2 linked regions of the Homo sapiens genome follow. The protein of the gene in region 2 binds, or shares a complex with, the protein of the main gene of each other region. Each region holds a gene or a part of one and is shown on either strand. Other genes may lie near its edges.

Region 1 (7,026 bases), on a different chromosome or scaffold from region 2:
CTCCTGGGTTCAACCTTCATTTTTTTCCCCTAATTATCTTATAAACCACCTCTTTCAGCCTCTCAAGTAGCTGGGATTACAGGCATGTGCCACCATGCCTGGCTAATTTTTGTATTTTTAGTAGAGACGGGGTTTCACCATGTTGATCAGGCTGGTCTTGAACTCTTGACCTCAGGTAATCCACCCTCCTCGACCTCCCAAAGTGCTAAGACTACAGGCATGAGCCACCATATCCCGCCTCCCTTGCCCCTTTTCTAACTTTGCTTTTTGTATCTGAAACTCATTCACACTAAGGTGTGGAATACATATATCCTGATATCTTATATGTAGTCATGTGTATTATATATGTAATTTCTGCACACTTAAACTGTCAGAAACAATATATTACAACTTCTACTTTTTAAAAAGTTTGCTACATTAGGCTGGGTGCAGTGGCTCACGCCTGTAATCTCAGCGCTTTGGGAGGCCAAGGCGGGCAGATCACCTGAGGTCGAGAGTTCAAGACCAGCCTGACCAATATGGAGAAACCCCGTCTCTACTAAAAATACAAAATTAGCCAGCCGTGGTGGTGCATGCCTGTAATCCCAGCTATTCGGGAGGCTGAGACAGGAGAATCACTTGAACCCAGGATGCAGAGGTTGCGGTGAGCTGAGATTGCGCCATGGCACTCCAGCCTGGGCAACAAGAGCGAAACTCTGTCTCAAAAAAAAAAAAAGTTTGCTACATTAGTGTCAGTATACATTTTATGATTTACTATGCTTTTGTTTGACCTAAAATGATGAGATATGTTTTTAAAAAGCAGTTCAAGGTTAACATATGGATATAGGCATACAAGTATTGATATTAAATTTTGTTTCATTTAGGGGGAAAATGCATTTACCCTAACAGGGATGAAGACTGTACATTAGGGCCGTGAAATTCCCCTAGTGGAGTGCCAAAGGCCTGGGAGCGCACTTAGCCCGGGGAGGCCCTCCCCACTTCCCAAGGAGCAAGAATATGCTTTCTTCTTGCCTAGTGGAGGGCAGGAACAGTGAGGGGAGGGGGACATACTGAGTGACTGTGGAGGGGTAGTGTATTGTGGCTAGAGGTAGGAGACCTGCCCTCAGACGCTGGCCCCAGCTCTCATAGGTGTTTTAGGGCCAGTCATTTCCTGTTTCCTTGTTTCTTCATCTGTAAAATGGGGATAAGAAAGCCCATCCTAGCTCCATTATAGGGTGGTTGAAGAGTCACATGAGAAGATTTTTTTTATTTTTTAGAGACGGCATCTCACTATGTTGGCCAGGTTGGTCTTGAATTCTTAGCCTCAAGCAATCCTCCCACCTTGGCCTCCCAAAGTTCTAGGATTACAGGTGTGAGCCACCACACCCAGACTTTTTTTTTTTTTTTTTTTTTTTTGAGAGGATAGTTCTGAAAGGACCTTGAAAGGACCTTGTAACTGTTAAGTGCTGGACAGTTGTAAGGTGCTGATACTGTCCCAGCCCTGGAGAGATGGGATGTGAGACTAGAGGCTCAATGTAGTCAAGAGAGGAAGAGGCCACAGGAGTGAATCAGGTCCTGTGAGTAATAACCTGGGGGCCTTTGGCCATTCTCAGCTATCCCATTGAACTCTTTCATCTACTGATTGAGGATTTTTCCCATATTTTCACTCACCAAACTGTGAGCCTTTTGGTCAAAATGGGGCAGGACCTTTTGGTCAAAAGGAGTAGAAACCCAACTCTTAGCTTTGGCAAAGGGACTTATTAGAAGGCTGCCAAGTTAGCTCTCAGAGCTGAAGGCACTGCCAAAGAGCCAGACAGCTCTGGGAGCCTCCAGAACTAGGCATGGGGATTGAAGATACCAGGATGCTGTCTCTGTCTATCTATCGTTTCTGCTGGTCTCCCCCAGGCTTGATTCCCTCCCACCGCAAACAGACCTTGTACGTGTGGAGAGAAATGACTTCCAGCAGCAGGAGATCCAGATCCTTCAAGGACATATGTCCTTCTGTCTCCCTCCACTTGGACAAATCTCAAGAAGGACTCCGATTGGCTTATATCAGATAGCCACCCCCCAACAAGTTGCCCTGACCAATAGACACTCCTTTTGGCCAGAATCTATTATCAGAAGCCAGTGGAGCCGCCCCAAACACCAGCTACCTCGCCTAAAGCAGACCTACCACTGGGCTAGAAATTGGAGACAAAAATGAGGAGGAGACAGCCCCTACACCTCAAGAAGCTCACAGTCTAGTGTGGGTGTGGGGAACGGGTGGGCAGTCAGGTTACTGGAGTGATGCAGGTACTGGAAAGATGGGGTCTGACAACGGGAGGGGTTGTTTTGGGGTATCAGGGACAAAGAAGCACCTTGCCTTCAGAGAGGAAGTGGTGCTTGAGCTCAGACTCAGAAGACCAGTGATTGTCCCTTTCCCTGGCTGAGGTGGTGGGAAAGGCATTTCAGAGGGAACAACTTGAGCAAGGGCTGGGCAGCATGAACTGGGCTGCAATGTCCCAGATGCAAAGAGGAGCTTATTTCCAACAAGGTGTCCAGCCACGGAGGGCCTTACACACCAAGGTGAGGAGGCTGGATTTTACCCAGTGAGCAGTGGTGAGCTGCTAGAGGGCTTACATGGAGCCTGCCACAGCGGCTGTGTGAAGGCTAGATGTGAGAGAACCAGACTGGATGCCAGAGACCACATGCCTAACAGCTGAAGCTGTGATCCAGACAGACACTGGGGCCCTGAGCTAAGGCAGCAGCAGGAAAGGAGAGGCTGCCTGGGTGGGAGACAAAACTGAATCAGTAACTAGATGGTGGGGTGGGGCGGGAGGGCTGAAAGAGAGAGAGGTGACTCCCTGGTTTCTGGTGCCGGCATCTGGATGGATTGAGTTTGAGGGACCTAGGCAGCATCCCAGTGGACTTGAGTCTGGAATGCAGATGTAGGAGAGTCTGGCATTACACCACCACCCCCTAGCCTCACCATCCTGGTAACAGTACCCTCTGCTTCTCCTGGGATGTCACAGCTGGGAAACCCCACCTGGAAGAGGTGAAAGCTAGAACCCATCAGAAGGAATGAGTGGACGACCATGGCGGAATTCTGAGGGACCTTGGCACGTGAGAGATGGGCAGAGGGAGAGAAGTCTGTGGTGAAGACTTTTGGAAAAAGAATGGTCGGAAAGTAGGAGGAGAGCCAAGAGAGTGGCACGCCAAAGGGTGTCCCCCAAGGGCAGGGGTCAGAAGGCAACCTGCCAAGGGAGGAGCCATACTCCACATCCTCATAACAGTGACAGCGGGGCAGCAAGGAGTTAGTTTTGCTCGTTATCCTTTTAAATATACTTTGTTTTCTATGTTGTTAGTTTAAAAAGTAGATTTTTTTAAACACTTAGAACTAAAATCCTCCTTAGAAGAATCTTGTGTGTCTGGTAATAATTTGCCTGCCAAAATATTTTTGTGATATCCATTTTTAAAAAATCAAGAGATGATTAACTGAAAATTATCAACTCTGATCTTATGCAATTAATTTTTTCAACATTTGCCTTAAAATGACATCAGGCCTTATGGTATGGATGTTCCTATAAAGGCTGAAGGTAGTAGGGGCTCATTTTTATACCAGCCATGCACACGGCAGCCATGTGATATGGAGCGAGGCCCTGCCCCTTCCTTCTGAGAAGTTGGTTCAGGGCCCTGGAACATGCCCCGATGGGTCCTGCTGTGTCATGCCCAGAGGCAGGCTGCAGGCACAAAACAGCAGCAAGACCAATTAGGACCAGATCGTAGGAAGAACTCCAGGTCCTGAAAGTGAGGTGCTAGACGGTGGGACTAGAGTCACCTGATTGCAGAGGCATCCCACCTGGCCCCAGGTGGGGTTTCCCAGGTGTGGCTCCCCAGGAGAAGAAGGAGAAGGGACTGCCTGCCAGTATGGTGAAGCTGGATGGTGCTGTGAGGAATGACTAAAGAGTCAACTCCAGGGCAATGCACACCAGCAACCTGGGGCTCCCCCTGCCAAGCCTGGTCCTGCTCCCTGGGTGTGGCCCATGGGTGTCCAGGGACATATCTGGGACCAAGGGAAATTATAGAATGTTTTAGGCCAAAACCAAGCAGGAGTTGGGCTGGCCTGTTGCCTCTGACCTTCCTCCTTTGCCTCTGTCGTACTGTCTATGAGCCCCCAACACCACCCTGCCTCCTTGCCCTTCACATCACTCCTGGAAATAGGGAAGGGCCTCAGAAACTTTGCACTCACCCAAAGATACCATCTCAGGTCAGCACTCAAGAAGCAGGTCTCCTGGATGTGGTCTCTGCAGCCTCAGACCCCTGCCCCTCATAGTACCTTCACTCTCCACACACCCTGTATGCTTTACAATGATCAATATTAACCGACCATTATCTCAGGGGGATCTCCACTACAGCCCATGTAGGAAGATATTATTATCCAGTTTCTCAGATAAGGAAACTGAAGCTCAGATAGGTTAAGTAACTTGGCCAAGGTCACAAAGCACATAACTGACAAAGCCAGAAATGCAAAGTCAGCCGGTACCACTAAGCAGCAACCCCCTCCAGCCCTACACTCTGAGATGCCATTAGTCAAAAAGCACTATCTGGTTATTCCACAATTCTGGACACAATCTGTGTGTGAATTTGCATTTGATTTGCATAGGGGATGTCACAATACCTAGATATCTTTCCCGCACTATCTCTCTCCCTGCCACCCGCCTCTCAACCAGGCTTTTCCTCCTTGAGATGCCTGGCAGGCTGGGAAGCACCATCTGGTCCCTCCCTCTGCCAAGGACGCCTTTGCTGGTTCAGAGTGTTCCCTCCCACCGGCCACTACCCAGTGCACTGAGTCGTGAGGGTGCACATCTGATGGGAAACTGCCTGGAGGAGGAACTAGGTGCCAGCAGCCCCATTTGGGCTTTCCTCCAGCAGATCTCAGGGCAGGAGTGCAAGGGTGCAGGAATGGGCAAATGGGGGAGGGTCCCCGGACCAAGACACATCCTCTATCTTCTGTCTTCAGCCCCAGATTTAGCTGTCTTCTCGCCTCCCACGCTTGCCCACTGCTGTCTGGAATGCTGGGAGGCTGGGAGAGCTAGAGGAAGACTGGATGGGGAGATGGAAGGGAAGGGACCTGGAGTTTGAGCTCTCAGTGGGAAGGAGGAGAGAAGGGTGCTGGCACCTTGGGCAGGGCATGGGTCTTGTTCCCCTCTCCTTTCTCTCTCAACCTGCACTCTCTGAAACAGTAGCCACATTGAAACGGTAGGCTCAATGTGCCCATTGAGCCATCAAATTTTGAAGACCTCATATGAAAACATAGTATATAAAATGTCGCATTAATAATTTTATATTGATTATATGTTTAAATAACATTTTAGACATACTGGGCTAAATATAAAATTAATTTCATGGTCAGGCACAGTGGTTCACGCCTGTAATCCCAGCACTTTGGAAGGCTGAGGTGGGTGGATCACCTGAGGTCAGGAGTTCAAGACCAGCCTGGCCAACATGGTGAAACCCCGTCTCTACTAAAAATACAAAAATTAGCTGGGGGTGGTGGCAGGCGCCTGTAATCCCTGTAATCGGGAGGCTGAGACAGGAGAATCACTTGAACCCTGGAGGTGGAGGTTGCAGTGACCCAAAATCGCGCCATTGCACTCCAGCCTGGGCAACAAGAGCAAGACAAAAAAAAAAAAAAAAAAAAGCTAATTTCACCTGTTTTTCTTTTTTTTTTTTTTTTTTTTTTTTTTTTTGAGACAGAGTCTTGCTCTATCACCCAGGCTGGAGGGCAGTAGCACAGTCTTGGCTCACTGCAACCTCTGCATCCCAGGTTTAACTGATTGTCATGCCTCAGCCTTCCGAGTAGCTGGGACTACAGGTGCCTGCCACCCTGCCCAGCTAATCTGTGTATTTTTAGTAGAGACAGGATTTCACCATGTTGGCCAGGCTGGTCTCAAACTCCTGACCTCAAGGGACCCACCCACGTTGGCCTCCCAAAGTGCTGGGATTACAGGCATGAGCCACCACGCCCAGCCTTGTTTCTCTTTACTTTTTAAAATGTGGGCACTAAAGAAGTTAAAATAGCATATGTGGCTTGCATTTTGGCTTGCATTATATTTCTGTTGGCCAGAGCTGTTCTCAACCCCATCCTACGGATCAGGCAGTTGCTGTTCTATGAAATACTTAGTGCAGGGTCCTGTTATGAGCTGAATGGCTCTTTATTATATCTGTGTCTTTTGGCAATATACACCCCTCACCCTCAGAGGGCCGGTCCAATGTAGGGTTCAGAGCATGAATTTGACAGACTGAATTTAAACCCACCCGTGATACTTCTAAGCTGCATGACATTGGGCAAGTCAATTAGCCTCTCTGCTTCAGTTTCCCAGCAGAAAAATGGGAATAATACAAGCACCTATCTGAAAAAGCCTTTTCTGAAAAAGGCTTTTCTGAGGACACATGAATTAATAGGCATAAAGAACTAAAAAGATTGTCTGGCACAGAGCAATTACTGTAATTGCTGTAGAGCTATTATCTAAAATTTGGGGCTGCTCCTTGCTAGTTTCATGTGTCAGATACTATATTATGCCCTTTGGATGCATTATTTTATCCACTCCTCCAAATAATCCTACTGGAACTGCGACCTTCATTTCTCAGAGGCAACATCTGAAATTCAGAGAGGTTCAGTAACTTGCCCAAGGCCACACAGATAACTTGGATCTGCTTCACTCCAGGGACTGATCGTTAAGCACTATTCTGTACCACCTCTCTTAGTAAATGCCCACCAAGACCCACCAAAGTAACACCTCTACCCTCTTCCTTTTGCTCCAGATCCCTACCTGTTTCAAGGACCTGCCAGTCTGAGAAGCTTCTTGTCATAAGGCCATCCAGGGGCCACGCACCCCTACCTTGCCAGCCTCCAGCATGCAGGATACCGTAACGACATCAGCATTGTTGGACCCCAGCCACTCCTCAGTCTCCACCCAGGACAATTCCTCCACTGGAGGACACACTTCAAGCACAAGCCCACAGCTCTCAAAGCCTTCAATCACACCAGTCCCTGCAAAGTCCAGG
Region 2 (7,026 bases):
CTAGGGCCAACTAGTGTGTGAATATATATATATATACACACACACATACACACACACACACATATATATATACACACATATATATATTTGTGTTTCAGAGCATACCTTTATTTGCATACAATTTTAGATATAATTCACAGAGCAGATAAGTTTATAAATGTAGGAAAGTTTCTTTTTATATTACTTCCAGTATAAATTTCTACCAATACTTTTACCTCTTTATTCTTTATGAATATAGGTACAAAGATGAATACATCTGAATATGGCTATGCATAGCTAGGTAAATAAACAGACATAAACAGGATTATATAAGTATGTCTATGTAAATATTTACCTATATAAAGCATGTTCCCCAAAAGACATTTTAAATACTCTAGTGTATATAATACTAAGGATGCAGGTGTAGAGTTAGTGTGTTTGTGTGTGTGTGTGTGTGTGTGTGTGTATATATATATATATAGTTTTTTTAACTTTAGATTCTTGAGCAGCAGCTTCAGCAGAGGAAAGCAATTTATCAGCTAAACCAAGAGAAATTAGAGTACAACTTGCAGGTGCTGAAGAAGAGAGATGAAGAAAGCACAGTAATTAAATCCCAGCAGAAGAGGAAGATCAATCGGTAAGCTAGCATGCAGAGCGTCTTTCTTCTGGGCCTTCTGTGCTGAGAATAGGGATGGATATGTACTTTTTTCTATTGAAGGGGTAGAAACCATTAAAAATATAACCAACACTTATTAAAATAGTTTTTTGGAAAAGTTAATACATTCAATCTCTCCCCAAGAAAAGAGTACATAGCAAAAGATCTTCCGTCCCCATTCATCTTGTTCCTCTTTCCTACCTCTGTAACCATTATTTGTTTGTCTCTTCCAGAATTTCATTAGGCATATACAAGCCCACACAAATATTCTCATCCCCCATCTGCTTTTACATAAATGATGGCAGTCTGTACACACTCCTGTATATCTTGAAGGCCTTTCCATCCCAGTTCATAGAGAGCTTTCACAGTTTCTTAAGCTGCTTACTACCCACTGCATAGATGCACTATGATTTATTTGACCAGTCTCTAATGATGGACATGTAGATTGCTTCCAACCTTTTCCTCTTGCAAATAATACCAACCTAAGTACTCATGACATGTGCCAGTTTGCTTTTGTGGAGATACCGTGGCTCACTGAAAGGTACCTATTGCTTGAAATTTCTCATACATCCTTCCCTTCTTCCTCATCTCCTTACTCCTATCCTTCCTGCCTTTCTTCCTTTAAGAATTGCATTCTAAGTTTCAGACCATTGTGCTAGGCTCTGAGGACCAGAGTGAAATAAGACTTCTTGCTTGTGGAAGGAGACAAGATTGGGGATTTCCCTCCAAACCCCAAATAGCCTATTATTATTTAGGAATTAATTCCACTTGTAGGTTGGTAATACATACATTTTGGACACATGTTGAATGTATAGAGGAACATCAGTTGACCTTTTGGTAGTTACTTATTACAGAAAATGATACTGAATAAATGGGATGGCATCTTAAGCCTGATTATCTGAGAAATAAGAATAGACAGGGGACAATATTTATGAAAAAATTCCCACTATATATGCACCGTACTAGATAGCAGAACATCCAAGAAAGGCACACATCAATACAGTGAGGAGGCACCTGGGAAAGCTTCCCAAAGAAGTGAAATACTGGAGGGGGTGGGGACATGAATTGGCAAAAAGCAGTTAAGAGGAGACTCCAGGTGGACAGTGCTGGCAGCTGGGAATGGCTGGTCTGAAGGCAAGGAGGTAGGATTCAGAAAGTCACACAGTGGGTGAAGAGAATGGGTAAGGTAGGAGGCGGGAGGAGGCGCTTGAGGCAGAGCTTGGGTTTGATGCGTGTGGCTGAGAGATGAGTGGAATCTTCCCTCTTATTTCAAACTCAGACAGCTTTCCCTCAGCCTGAAAAACCCTTCAACGGACCCTGCTGTTTCTAAGCACCATCTTTTCGTCTCTTGCTTTCATTGCCATTTTCCTTTCCTGCTCACCACCACCCAGCATTTCACAATTTGACATATCTGTTTGTGCTGCTCTAACAGACTACCTGAGACTGGATAATTTACAAAGGCAAAAGTTTATTTCTCACAGTTCTGGAGTCTGGGAAGGCCAAGATCAAGGCTGGCAGGTTTAGTTTCTAGTGAGGGCTGCATCTTTCAGAGGGGAGGGATGCTGTGTCCTCACACAGTAGAAGAGCGGGAGAGCAAGCTGGCCTAAGGCTTTGGGAGGCCTCTTTTATAAAGGCCTTAATCCCATAATCCCATTCATGATGGAGGAGGCCTTATGGCCTCATTACCTCTTAAAGGTCCTGCCTCTTAATATTATCACATTGACAACACTGAATTTTGGAGGAGTTACATTCAAGCCGTAGCAACCTATGACCCCAGGATTGGACAAAAACTTCCCACAGTAGGATACTGATGATGCCCTTCTAGCCAAGCGCAGTGGCTTCTCCTCAGGCCTCATCTATTATGATTGGATACTGGATTTTCTTCTTTGGTTTAAATGACCCTAAAATATTTGCTCTTCTTTCTTAATGTATTTGTTTCCTTTGGTGGTTCTGCTTTTCCTTGCTTGATATGTCTTGAGTATCTAGATAAGACAATCTAGAAAATCCAGGCCTTACCATTGCTTTTAATTTTTATTTCATCTGCCACATACCTCAGTCTCATGGTTTTGAATATCCCCTTTTTGTTGATGACTGCCAACCTCATATCCCCAATCCTGAGCTCACCTTTCATTTACCTGGAACTGCCAACGTAACAGTTCAGCTTGGAGAGGCCCTGTCATTTCCAGGGCACAGTTTCTGAAACCAGACTTGCCTCTGCTCCCTGTTTCCAGTTCTCCAGCCTCACTCCCCTGCATCTCTAGCTTCCAGGCACTAAGAACTCTGGACTTTTTTTGTTGAGCTTCCTCTTGCAGCCATTCTTCCCTGTTCACTTCCTCGCCTGCTATCTTGCCCAGACCTTCAGTATGCACCTGGAGTTTGTTTTGTTAGCTTCGGTAATTAGATGACACATAGGAACTCCTTTACTGCATGACATTGGGAAAAAACACTTTGGAATGACTACTTATTTTTACATCTGTGCTTGGAAAGCCTCCTTGAAGGCTGTAGTTAAGGAAATGGGTTAGCTGTTTCTTTCTATCAGAGACTAAGGTAACGACTTTTTTTGCATTTTCTTGATGATGAAAATATGAATGATGAATGTTTGCATTTGAGAGACATTTTGATCATTTCAGAATAATGCTTAGGAGAGGGAAAATCTTATTTTTAGAATTTCTAAACTTAAAATATGTTGGCCTTCAGCTTCTCTGTTACTGTGTGAATGGGGCACTGATAAGAGCCACCTCTGTAGTAGTTTGAAGTCTGAAGTATGGGCCTGGGTCTAAACATTGCGCCTGCCATGCATATTTTATGGGCCGAGTTTCCATGCACAGAGCTCCTGTTAGCAGTGAGATGGTGAGCTGTGCCGTGCCTGGATTCACAGTGCTATTGGACAGGTTTTAACTGCCTCTTGCTATTCTGGAAATTTTGGACCACCCCCTCCCCTGCAAGCCTGGGTAAGTTAGATGCCTCACCTCTGGGCTCCCCTGGCACCCTGCATAAAACTCTCCTATAGCACTTTCCACGCTGTACTGTAATTAACGTTTGTCTTTGTTTTTGACTAGACTGATAGTACCTTGTATTGAAACGTATCTTTGTATTCATCTTTGTCTTTCAACATATCCTTGCGCAAAAGTGGCATTTCATGTTTGTTTAATGAATACGTGGATGAGTGAATAAATGAATGAATGAATGAGTTACTGGACCTGTTAACGGTATCAGCTCTTTGAGGCTGGAAGATTTATGTATCATAGGCTTTTGTGATATGCATTTTTTTTCTTTAAAATTTTCTTGCTTCATGATTGAATTAAACATCCAAGTCATGACAATGAAATCGTTGAGATAGATTATTTAAATATGTGAGGCTGGCCCTAGGTATGGGTATGGGCATTCTGACAAATGATGTATTGTGAAGTAGGTTCTGTCCACAGTCTTGAGTAGGAGGCTGCCTCTTGGTGGGAATGGGCTCTGGATTGTTTTCAATGCGTTTCGTTTTGGACTGTCCCAAGATCTCCTGTTGCCTTCCTTTTGTTGATCAAAATGGGATCTGTGTTTTGGAATATATGGGAGGGTTTTCTGCTCTTCCACAGATCTGCTCCTGGGTTTGTGGTAGAGCTGAATCAGGTGGATGAGAGGAACATACATAATACCTTCTATTCAGCTGCAGACTAACCTTTTTCTCCTTCAACCAGCCTGCATGATATACTTAACAATCTGAGATCAAAATATGCCAAGCAAATAAAGCAGTTTCAGGAGGAGAACCAGTCTCTAACCTCGGACTACAAACGTCTTGTGATGCAATTCAAGGAGCTACAGAAAGCCATGAGGTATCTTAAGGACTTGGTCCTAAGGCACTTGTCCTAGCATAGAGGTGACGGGGATGGAGTTTGTACAAGCTGTGATTTCGTTGGACTTGATGTCACCAGCTATTCTGGGGCTGGACCAGGCACTAGTTAACCTTTTGTGGTGTGTTCCCCTGGCCCTTCACTTGCGTGTCACCTGCCTTTTCTTGAGATGTGTTGGGATGGCTTCCAGTTTATCGTAAGTGGGAATCAGCCGCCCAGGGATGGGGCCAGGCCCAGGAATTAGCACAGCTCCTTTTCATATTCCTGCCCTGCTGCTATTTGAGGGGACCCTGGCCAGGTCCTGGGGCCAGCTGGCCATGCTCTGTGACTCTCCTTCACAGGCATTTTGCTCTTATTGATGATGAGAAGTTTTGGGAGATTTGGCTGATGAATGAAGAGGAGGCGAAGGACCTAATAGCCAGAGCCTTTGATGTGGACAGGATCATCCACACCCATCATCTGGGGCTTCCCTGGGCAGCACCTGATTTCTGGTTCCTGAACAATGTTGGGCCTATTTCTCAGCAGCCCCAGAAGTCCGCCACACAGATAGTAGAAGAAATGCTTATGCGCTCAGGTGACTAGAACACTGTCATAGAGCCTTAGAGCTGGAGGAGCCCCCTGAGAACATCGGGTCAAGCCAGTCACGTTAGAGATAGTCTAGGGAGGAGGGGGAAGAGTATGATTATTGGTATCGCTTTTAAGTCTCCTCTAATTTATAGCTTTGCTCTCTCTCCTGTATTATAAACTGGCAGTTAGGTCTAGAAGCTTGATCAGATGCAGGTCCAATTTATTTTTGCTAAGTACACTATTGTGTAGTACCTCCATCGGGATAAACTAATGTTAAATTGTCTCCCTTTTTGTGATGTTAGCAACCATTGCTAATCATTGTCTAAGATCCATTAACTGTATTAGGGATTGCAAAATGGTGATATGTTAGATTCTGTTCTTGTGTCTTTATTTAACAGAATACTTCTTAAAAGAAAATCTTCCCTTCCTCAGCAATTTGCTACCCTGAGATAGTCTGTATATGAAAAGCAGGATAGATGCTTATTTTTTCTCTGTTTACCAGTTTTCAAAATAATGGGTTGGGCCTCTAGCATCTTCCAAAGGTACCAATGAGTTTTTAAAAAATATTATGAATGCATGAGTTTAAACAAATTTGATGTATTTTAGTTTACTAAAGTAATTATCCTTATTGAGGCTCAAATTGTTCCATCTTTGGCTAGTGGAAATCTTCATATTGGCTTCTGGGTCCTTTTGATTCAGCCCTAGTAGTTATTTATTTATTTATTTATTTATTTTTGAGACAGAGTCTCGCTCTGTTGCCAGGCTGGATTGCAGTGGCGCGATCTGGGCTCACTGCAACCTCCGCCTCCCGGGTTCAAGCAATTCCCCTGCCTCAGCCTCCCGAGGAGCTGGGACTACAGGTGCGCACTGCCACACCTGGCTAATTTTGTTTATTTTTAGTAGAGACAGGGTTTCACCATATTGGCCAGGATGGTCTCCATCTCCTGAGCCCGTGATCCCCCCAACTCAGCCTCCCAAAAGGCTGGAATTACAAGTGTGAGCCACCACGCTTGGCTAGCCCTAGTAGTTTTTTTTAACAGCGTCCTGGCTCTCCAGGATGACCAGGTGTTCAAGGCACACATTATACTTTTCCTGCCTCTTGTCTGGAATCAGCCATTTCTCCAAGGATCCCCTGGTCCTTTCAAATAGGGAATTTTTTTTTTTTTTTTTTTTTTGAGATGGTCTCACTCTGTCGCCCAGGCTGGAGGGCAGTGGTGGGATCTCGGCTCACTGCAACCTCTGCCGCCAAGGCTTCAGCAATCCTCCCACCTCTGCCTCCCGAGTAGCTGGGACCAAAGACTCATGCCACAATGCCCAGCTAATTTTTGTATTTTTTTGTAGAGACATGGATTTGCCATGTTGCCCAGGCTGGTCTCAAATCCTGGGCTCAAGCGATTCCTTCCCAGAGTGCTGGGATTACAGGCTTGTGTCACCATGCATGCCCAGGGAATGGTATTTAGAAACCACGCTGTGGGCGCTGGGTGCTTATTGTTTTGGATTGGCCATTGTTTCTAGGCCTTTTCAGTGGACAGAGCTGAGAGTATAGGATTTCTTTTTTTTGGTAATAAAATAAATCATGAGTTCATTCTAATACCTCCTCATCAACAGGATGCCAGGATTTTTATTTAACAGTATCAAAGTGTATCCCCTTTCTTCCAACTTTAAAATCTTAGTGCTCAGTGACTTCAAAATAATGAATCACATGCCTTCCCCACAGCACCACAGAACTGCCTCAGAGGAAAATATCAGCCCTGCCACCAACAAATGATTACTAAAGACAGTTTACACTGTTTTATGGTTCCTTTTATTCTTAAAATGTGTCCCTCCAGGGATGTACAGACAGATTGCTATATTTTAAAGTCACCTGGAGCCAGGTGCGATGGCTCACCCCTGTAATCCCAGCACTTTGGGAGGCCAAGGCGCGCAGATCACCTGAGGTCAGGAATTCGAGACCAGCCTGGCCAACATGGCGAAAACCTGTCTCTA

What was found. Proteins that work in one complex are often made in the same cells at the same time.
Region 1: DRC1 (region 2) and DRC5 share a complex: the UniProt entries of both Homo sapiens proteins name them as parts of the nexin-dynein regulatory complex.

Annotation. Positions count from the first base shown.
Region 1 is NC_000006.12:44,287,676-44,294,701, reverse strand, and holds part of DRC5 (dynein regulatory complex subunit 5), read left to right. Parts: intron 1-1,884; exon of another isoform or gene 1,885-2,224; intron 2,225-6,783; 5' UTR 6,784-6,876; coding exon 6,877-7,026. UniProt on the Homo sapiens protein: Component of the nexin-dynein regulatory complex (N-DRC) a key regulator of ciliary/flagellar motility which maintains the alignment and integrity of the distal axoneme and regulates microtubule sliding in motile axonemes.
Region 2 is NC_000002.12:26,439,902-26,446,927, forward strand, and holds part of DRC1 (dynein regulatory complex protein 1), read left to right. Parts: intron 1-476; coding exon 477-616; intron 617-4,320; coding exon 4,321-4,455; intron 4,456-4,814; coding exon 4,815-5,047; intron 5,048-7,026. UniProt on the Homo sapiens protein: Component of the nexin-dynein regulatory complex (N-DRC) a key regulator of ciliary/flagellar motility which maintains the alignment and integrity of the distal axoneme and regulates microtubule sliding in motile axonemes.